Linked DNA regions of Homo sapiens. The protein of the gene in region 2 purifies or fractionates together with the protein of the main gene of each other region. This does not show direct contact. Each region holds a gene or a part of one and is shown on either strand. Other genes may lie near its edges.

Evidence for each region.
Region 1: the proteins of TRIM16 (region 2) and DEPTOR purify together in Homo sapiens (affinity purification with western blotting, with the first as the bait; one study listed by BioGRID). This does not show direct contact.

What each region holds. Positions count from the first base shown.
Region 1 is NC_000008.11:119,872,350-119,876,623, reverse strand, and holds the start of DEPTOR (DEP domain-containing mTOR-interacting protein), read right to left. Parts: upstream 2,903-4,274; 5' UTR 2,778-2,902; coding exon 2,656-2,777; intron 1-2,655. UniProt on the Homo sapiens protein: Negative regulator of the mTORC1 and mTORC2 complexes: inhibits the protein kinase activity of MTOR, thereby inactivating both complexes. DEPTOR inhibits mTORC1 and mTORC2 to induce autophagy.
Region 2 is NC_000017.11:15,677,779-15,681,589, reverse strand, and holds part of TRIM16 (tripartite motif-containing protein 16), read left to right. Parts: intron 1-636; coding exon of another isoform or gene 637-725; intron 726-3,811.

The DNA.
Region 1 (4,274 bases), on a different chromosome or scaffold from region 2:
CTCTGTTGCCCAGGCTGGAGTGCAGTGGCACTGTCTTGGCTCACTGCAACCTCTGCCTCCCAGGTTCAAGCAATCCTCTCACCTCAGCCTCCCAAGTAGCTAGGATTACAAGCATGCACCACCACACCCGGCTAATTCTTGTATTTTTAGTAGAGATGAGGTTTCACCATGTTGGTCAGGCTGGTCTTGAACTCCAGACCTCAAGGGATCCGCCTGCCTTGGTCTCCCAAAGGGCCAGGATTACGGGCATAATCACTTGTCCAAGGTCCCACACTAGTAAGTAGCAAAGCCAAGATTCAGTCTAGCTTAAAGTCTTCCTTGAAACAACTTAATGCTGACACTTGCCTACATAATGGTGGAGCAGTCATTCAAACCCAGGTCTAATTCCTGCATGACAAGGATGGCTCTCAAAACTGCTGCAGTGCAGAGAGGCGCTAGAAAAGTGGGGAATAACAAGTGCTCTGGGGACTGCAAGGAAGAGGCATTTAAACTGCATCTTGAAGGAAAAAGTACTTGCTGGACAAAAAGAGCCATCATGCAATTTAATATTTGTAAAATAAATGAAAAATAAGTAACCCTATCCAACAGAAGACTTTTAAAAAGATGGCCCAGTAATGAAGAGCAGAGAAATTAAACTTTCTTTCCCACAGTAGGCTTTAAAGGGACTGAAGCCTGTTATCACTCGCCTGCTACAGCTTGGGCTTCTAAAGCCTACAAACTCTCCTTACAATTCCCCCATTTTACCTGTCCCAAAACTGGACAAGTCTTACAGGTTAGTTCAGGTTCTGCACCTTATCAACCAAATTGTTTTGCCTATCCACCCTGTGGTGCCAAACCTGTACACTCTTTTGTCCTCAATACCTTCCTCCACAACTCACTATTCCATTCTTGATCTTAAAGATGCCTTTTTCACTATTCCCCTGCACCCCTCGTCCCAGCCTCTCTTTGCTTTTACCTGGACTGACCCTGACACCCATCAGTCCCAGCAGCTTACCTGGGCTGTACTGCCGCAAGTCTTCAGGAACAGCCCTCATTACTTCAGCCAAGCCCTTTCTCATGATTTACTTTCTTTCTACCCCTCTGCTTCTCACCTTATTCAATATATTGATGACCTTCTACTTTGTAGCCTCTCCTTTGAATCTTCTCAGCAAGACACCCTCCTGCTCCTTCAACATTTATTCTCCAAGGGATATCAGGTCTCTTCTTCCTTACTCTACTCTTTACAACAGGGCTTTATGAAGTCACCCCCGCCTTCTTGGACTGCACCTCACAAACTTACACCACTATCCATCATCTACCCAACTCCTATAAAACAACCCCTTCCCCATCTCCCTTTGCTGACTCCGTTTTTAGACTCAGTCCACCTGCACCCAGGTGATTAAAAAGCTTTATTGCTCACACAAAACTTGTTCGGTGGTCTCTTCACACGGGCACCGCGTGACAGGTTTCATTAGAAAGTACTTTTGATGAAGGAAAAAAAGTTTTTATTCCCTTTAATTCTGACCACGTATTTTTAAAAATCAACAAAGAATCGATAGGTGCAATTTGCCTTTTGTAACATTAAAAATCAGTTAATTCTGACTTCCAATATTGGTCTCCTTCAGAGACCTTTGCAAGACACTCTTTCAGGTCCTGAAACACAGACATTTAGAAACCAAAACAAGCTGGGGAATTCAGGCTAAGAACTAGAAGTAACAGGGGCCCGCGTACAAGTTGTGGCTCAAACGCTGCAGAGCTGGGTTTTCTTTTTCCTGGCAAACTGATTTATAACCACACGAAGGGCAGCTGCAGAACCAGTTAGACCATAAGTACTATTCCCAAACAGCCCTAGAGGAAGGACCATACAGGGATGGGAATGGCAAGGGGGATTCTGGGGGTCGTCCTTGTTCCCAAGTTCCGTGAGACGCCGCAAGTCTTAATTCTTGCAGGAGCCAGGGTCCCCATGGATCCTGCTGCCCAAAACGTGCGAGCCCGGGGAGTTGGCACAGCCTCAAGGCAGCCCGACAAGGTGCCTCCACGCCCCCTTGCGGACCCAAATGATTGAGGACGATGTGCCAATTAACTGATAGGTGCAGGGTTTCAGAAATGCTCTCTCAGTTTAACCTCACAAAAAGCCCTTGAATCAGCCCTGTTTTACAGATGTAAAACACCGAGGCTCAGGGGAGTGAAGGAAGACTTGTCAGCAAAAAGGAAAACCTAGTGAAGACTATCGTTGGTCTTGCTCCTTTTATCAAGGAGTAGAGGGGCTGGGGTCGCCTCGGGACCCCACAGCGACCCCTCTTGCTCTCTTCGCGGATGAGGCGCAGGCTGTCAGCCGGGAGGCCTGGCGGCGTCCAGGTACACGGGAAGACGGACAGCGCGGTGGGTGGCAGGGACTTTGCCCGGCACAGGACTGCAGCAGCCAGGCTAGGGCGCAGCGCGCACCACCCGCTCGTCGGCTTCTGCCAGGCAGCCCCGCTTGGCGAGCGAGTCCTCAGGGACCGAGGCTGCAGCAGCTAAGCGCGGGCGCACCGAGGACCATCCACGCGCCCGCAGCCGTTCCGGCGCCCCACGCGAGTCGCAAGCCACGAGCCAGGGAGCGCGTGCGCGCAGGACTGCAGCGGGCACGCGTTGGCAGTGCCATCGTGAGCTCACCCGCTGTGTCTCTTGCCTTACCGTAGCTGTTCCCCGGTGACCAAGACCTCAGCCATGCGCTCCAGCTCCCTTTGCTGCGCCCCGCCACTCCCGCTGGTGCTGCTGTCACTGCCAGCACTGCCAGTGCTGCCGCCCTCCTCCATGGTTTTAGGGCCGTGCGGCTACCACTGGCTCCGCTGTCCGCCGAGGGTTTGGGTGCTCGGATCAGTCTGCCCTCACAGACGCTTCCCGCGCCATCTTTGTTCGGGGCAGCTCCGCTGCTCTGACTGGATTGGCTGGAGAGGGAATCCCTATGGGTAGGCAGACGCGCTGGGCTAGTCCGGCCCCAGAAACTTGAGCTTGGGGGCGTGGCTAGAGCCCCTCATGGTCGGGGGGCGGGGCCGATGGAGGAAAATATAAACATCTGGGCGGGGCGCTGCTACTGAGCTGTGTGTGCTGCTGGAGGCTGAATTTGGTGAGCTCTCTTTACCCACAAAGCTCATGCTGTAGAATCCTGGGGACAGGCCTGGAGGTTATTAGTGTGAAGGCGTTTTTATTGTACGTTCCACACCCCAAGTTGCCAGAGAGCAAAACATAATTCAACAATCTGGCCAAATGGTCAACAGTGAAGGTTATACATGTCATTGAAGGGCATGGAGAAATTAAACATTCTTCTCTCCCCAACCTCTCTCTCCAAAGACGACTTGTTTGCCTTATGTTGTAATCAATAAGGAACGCCGGCCTAGGAATCAGGCTGACCTGGGATCCAGCTCCGCTCCTGTGATGTCCTATTTAAATGTGTTTAATCCTCCCTTACAAAATAAAAATAATTGCGGCTACCACTTTTGACATCTGCTGCATTAAAGATACTTCAGGTATGGTATTACCTCGTTTAATTATTACAATAATTCATAAAATAGGTATTGGTGTTCGTTTTGCATTAGAATGCAGGCTTGGAGAGGTGAAGTTACTTGTCTAAGGCAAGCAAATAATAAGTATAAGAAGAGCCGGGCACCGTGGCTCATGCCTGTAATCCCAGCACTTTGGGAGGCCGAGGCGGGCAGATCACCTGAGGTCAGGAGTTCCAGACCAGCCTGACCAACATGAAGAAACCCCGTCTCTACTAAAAATACAAAATTAGCCGGGCGTGGTGGTGCATGCCTGTAATCCTAGCTACTTCGGAGGCTGAGGCAGGAGAATCGCTCGAACCCGGGAGGCGGAGGTTGCTGTAAGCCGAGTTCGGGTGAGCGGAGTTAGTGCCATTGCATTCCAGCCTGGGCAACAAGAGCGAGACTCCGTCTCAAATCATCATAATAATAATAAGAAGAAATCTAACCGAGGCAATTCTGGCTTCAAAGTTATGCTTTGAAAAGACTGAAAGACTGCCTCTTAAAATGGGGATACAATGGTATTGTCTATCCGTAAAAGATTATGAAAAGAAATTTGATTAGTACCAAATAAATGTTCTGATTTTCTGTTTCATGCAGAGTCGGAGTTGGTCTGCAGGAAGGCGAAGTAATGTTTATGGCAGTATTCATGTGTGTTGAGCATTTATTCTGTGCTTTACATTGTGCCAAACACTTTATCCTCACAAAACCCTGGAGTTTGGTATTATTTTCAACTTACAAATGAGAAAGCTTAAGTATAGAAAGATGAAGTAA
Region 2 (3,811 bases):
ATTTAGGGCTCATTCATTAATTCATTCACAATACTTAGGGACTGCTGTCTGCCAAGTACACCGTGCTCAGTGCTTAGGATGCAGTGGTGAATGATACGACACATACAATTTAGTGGAGCGTGTGTGGTGTTAACAGGCCTGAGATGGCCACAGACTCACCGTGGGCCTGGAATACTCACGATGGGGTGGCTAAAGGTGTCTGTGACCATGACTGCTGGGGTGGGCACTGCTGTCTTTTGCTGCTGTGACTCCCTTTTTCTTGTTCTACAAAATTGGTCACTTTCTCCATTTGCGAATAAAGGAGTTGAGCCTGGAGGTCTTTAAGCACCTCTCCAACTGTAACATTGCACTTCTTGTTTTGTTTTAGGGTTTTTTGGTCCCAGGGAACCTCGTTTTCAGAGCAGTGGCTCACGCAGATCCTGAGCCCAGTTAATGGTCATACCTTTCCCTGAGTTTATGTTCATTCTATCCTCTGAGATTATCTTTGAAGTCTCATTACATAGATGTCTGTAAAATCCTTCAAGCTATGGACAGCCAAGGTCAGAGGCACATTTTCTCATAAGTGGCTGTTTCTAAATTCATAGGTTTGAGATACATAAAGATAAACCAGGTTCCTTTATGTCAATTTCCTTCCAGTTCTGCCCTCTGAGGACCCTGCCCTTTCCCAAAAGGGGTATCTTAAGAAGGAAAATATGGCTGCTCTTTGCCGGACAGCAGAGTCCCAGGTGAGTTGGGGATTTTCCTCTCTTCTTGGAAATTTTATTTTAATTGAGTTGGGGATTTTCCTCTCTTCTCAGAAATCTTATTTTAATTCCTGAAGCAAATTTTTTTTCTCTTAGCATGAAGCTTGTCAACCACATTAGCCACAGCAGTTTGAAAGGAAAGGATCAAGCAGGTGGGATGGACTGCCAATGAGATGGTGTTTGCGTGTTCCTCAGTTGTATGGCAGTAGCAGTGAAGGTCAGGAGGCTTGGTAGCCTCGCCCATCAGTTGGCAGTGTAGAGAAAGGATGGTAGGGGCAGGATGGGAATGAGGCCTCTTTAGCAGATAATTGAGGAGCGTGACTCCTAGAACATGGTTGGGTAAGAATCAAGCTTCTTTTTGTTCACTTGAGACATTTGGCATAGATATGCAAAGGCACGTGAGGCATTTCTTGCTTGCATCTGCTTAGAATATTTTGGGGAGAAAAGATGTACACAAATCTGTGTGGCACAAACCAGCAGATTTATTATTATTAAATAGGGCCTTATTATTAAGGGCCTACTCAATATAAAGTGTCTTAGGGAAAATGCTGTATGGACTTGGAGGAGCAGGAGCAAATGTGTCTGGCTGAGAGAGATTTAGGAAGGTTTTATTCATTCAACTAGCATTTTAAAGTCCTTTTAAGCAGCTCCTAGGCTAATGAAAGTAGTGAGATTTGATGTGGGCCCTGAAAGCTGAGTAAATTCTTGAAAGATTTATAGAAAGTTAGTGACATAAATGACTTAGAATCAAAGCAAGATACTGATTCCTCTGGCACAGGAAAAAAGTCAGTACATTGAAATCACAGAGGTGTTGTTCCACAAAAACTTAAAGGCTTCTTATACTCAAAGTTCTTTCCTAGATATAATTCTCAAGCTTGGCTTATTTCTTTTTTTCTTTTTTTTTTTTTTTGAGACATAGTCTCGCTCTCTCGCCCAGGCTGGAGTGCAGTGGCGCGATCTCAGCTCACTGCAAGCTCCGCCTCCCAGGTTCACTCCATTCTCCTGCCTCAGCCTCCCGAGTAGCTGGGACTACAGGCACCCGCCACCGCGCCCGGCTAATTTTTTGTATTTTTAGTAGAGACAGGGTTTCACCGTGTTAGCCAGGATGGTCTCGATCTCCTGACCTTGTGATCTGCCCGCCTCGGCCTCCCAAAGTGCTGGGATTACAGGCGTGAGCCACCACGCCCGGCCAGCTTGGCCTATTTCTTAGTTTCTTACTTACCATGTGTCTCTCTCAACTTAACTGAAGATAACCTTAAGGCCGGCTAAACAATAGGCTTGGGTGGGAAGGCCACATCCTTAATCTGACATTTTTTTTACAGGGCTAAATCACTTTGTTTAGTTAACAGGTGTAATGGGCCTTTATTGCTCAAAGCTCTTGTTAGACTTACTTCCCACTGTATGAGATCTAGAAACAGTTTGCTTTTCCAACCACGTGAGGCCTCAGATTTCTGCACTCTATTCTCTTTTGTTTTGGCTTGAAAATTGACACATTGTTTCCTGAACTTAACTCATTCTTTGTTCGCCAGACATATCCAGGAGCATTCTACACAAAGAGCGTTCTGGTGCTTTCCAACCTGTTCTAGAGCCACAGGCCCAGTGAGCATTTGCCCTGGCCTCATAGTTGCTAATTAGTTTGCCAGTGTATATTAAGAGTCTGCATCTGTTGGCTGGATGCGGTGGCTCATGCCTGTAATCCCAGCACTTTGGGAGGCCGAGGTGGGCGGATCACCTGAGGTCAGGAGTCTGTGACCAGCCTGGACAACATGGTGAGATCCCGTTTCTACTAAAAATACAAAAAAAAGTAGCTGGGCGTGGTGGCTCACACCTGTAGTCCCAGCTACTCAAGAGGCTGAGGCAGGAGAATCGCTTAAACATGGGAGATGGAGGTTGCGGTAAGCCGAGAGCATCGTGGCCACTGCACTCCAGCAACAGAGTGAGACTCCGTCTCAAAAAAAAAAAAAAAAAGGAGAGTCTGCATTTCTCCAGTCGTAAATATTCTTTTCTTTGAAGCTTGCCACCTGACTGTCAATCCAATGCCACCTGTGTATTTGAACTTTTTATTATGATATCTCCCACTTGAAGGTGCTGATTTCTGAATTAGTTTGGGTTGGCTTACTAATAACTGTTGTAACCAATAGACCCAAAATATATATGGCCTTAATACAATAGAAGTGTATTGTTTGCTGTCATAGCCATGTGAGTGGGTATATAGATTGATAGGATGGCCATTCAGGGACCTGAGCTACCTGAAGCTCTAGCCTCTTTACCATATGGCTTCCAAACTCACTCTGGGGCTCATGGCCCTACCAGCCAGTCAGAAGGGGAAAACAGCATGGAGGAACATACGTGAGTCAGGCCTGGAAAGGGCGCACATCACTCCTGCTTGCATTCCATTGGTTAGGATCTCATGGCCAGGTCTAACTACAGGAGGTTGGGAAATGTTTGTATACCTAGAAAGGAGAGGAGGAGGCATATTTTCATGGACAGTTAGCAGCTCGTAGCACTGTTCTCAAACATTTAGGTTATTTAGAACGATTTTGCTATTTTTCTATTGTAAGGTATAAATAGATGTGATTCTTTGTTTATAACTCTCCATATTTCTGATAGTTTTCTTTTTTTTTTTTTGAGACACAGTCTCGTTCTGTTGCCCAGGCTGGAGTGCAATGGCGTGATCTCGGCTCACTGCAAGCTTCGCCTCCCGGGTTCACGCCATTCTCCTGCTTCAGCCTCCCGAATAGCTGGGACTACAGGCGCCCACCACCATGCCTGGCTAATTTTTTTTGTATTTATAGTAGAGATGGGGTTTCACCATGTTAGCCAGGATGGTCTCGATCTCCTGACCTCGTGATCTGCCCACCTCGGCCTCCCAAAGTGCTGGGATTACAGGCGTGAGCCACTGCACCCAGCCGATAGTTTTCTTATAATTGAGTTCTGTATATAAAATTACTGTAAAACAAAACTATCAAATTATGTCAGAGGGGTATACACATTTTAAGATTTTAAGATTCTTTAATATACGAGTCAATAAAATCTTGTCTTTGACACTGTGAACATAGTTTAATCTA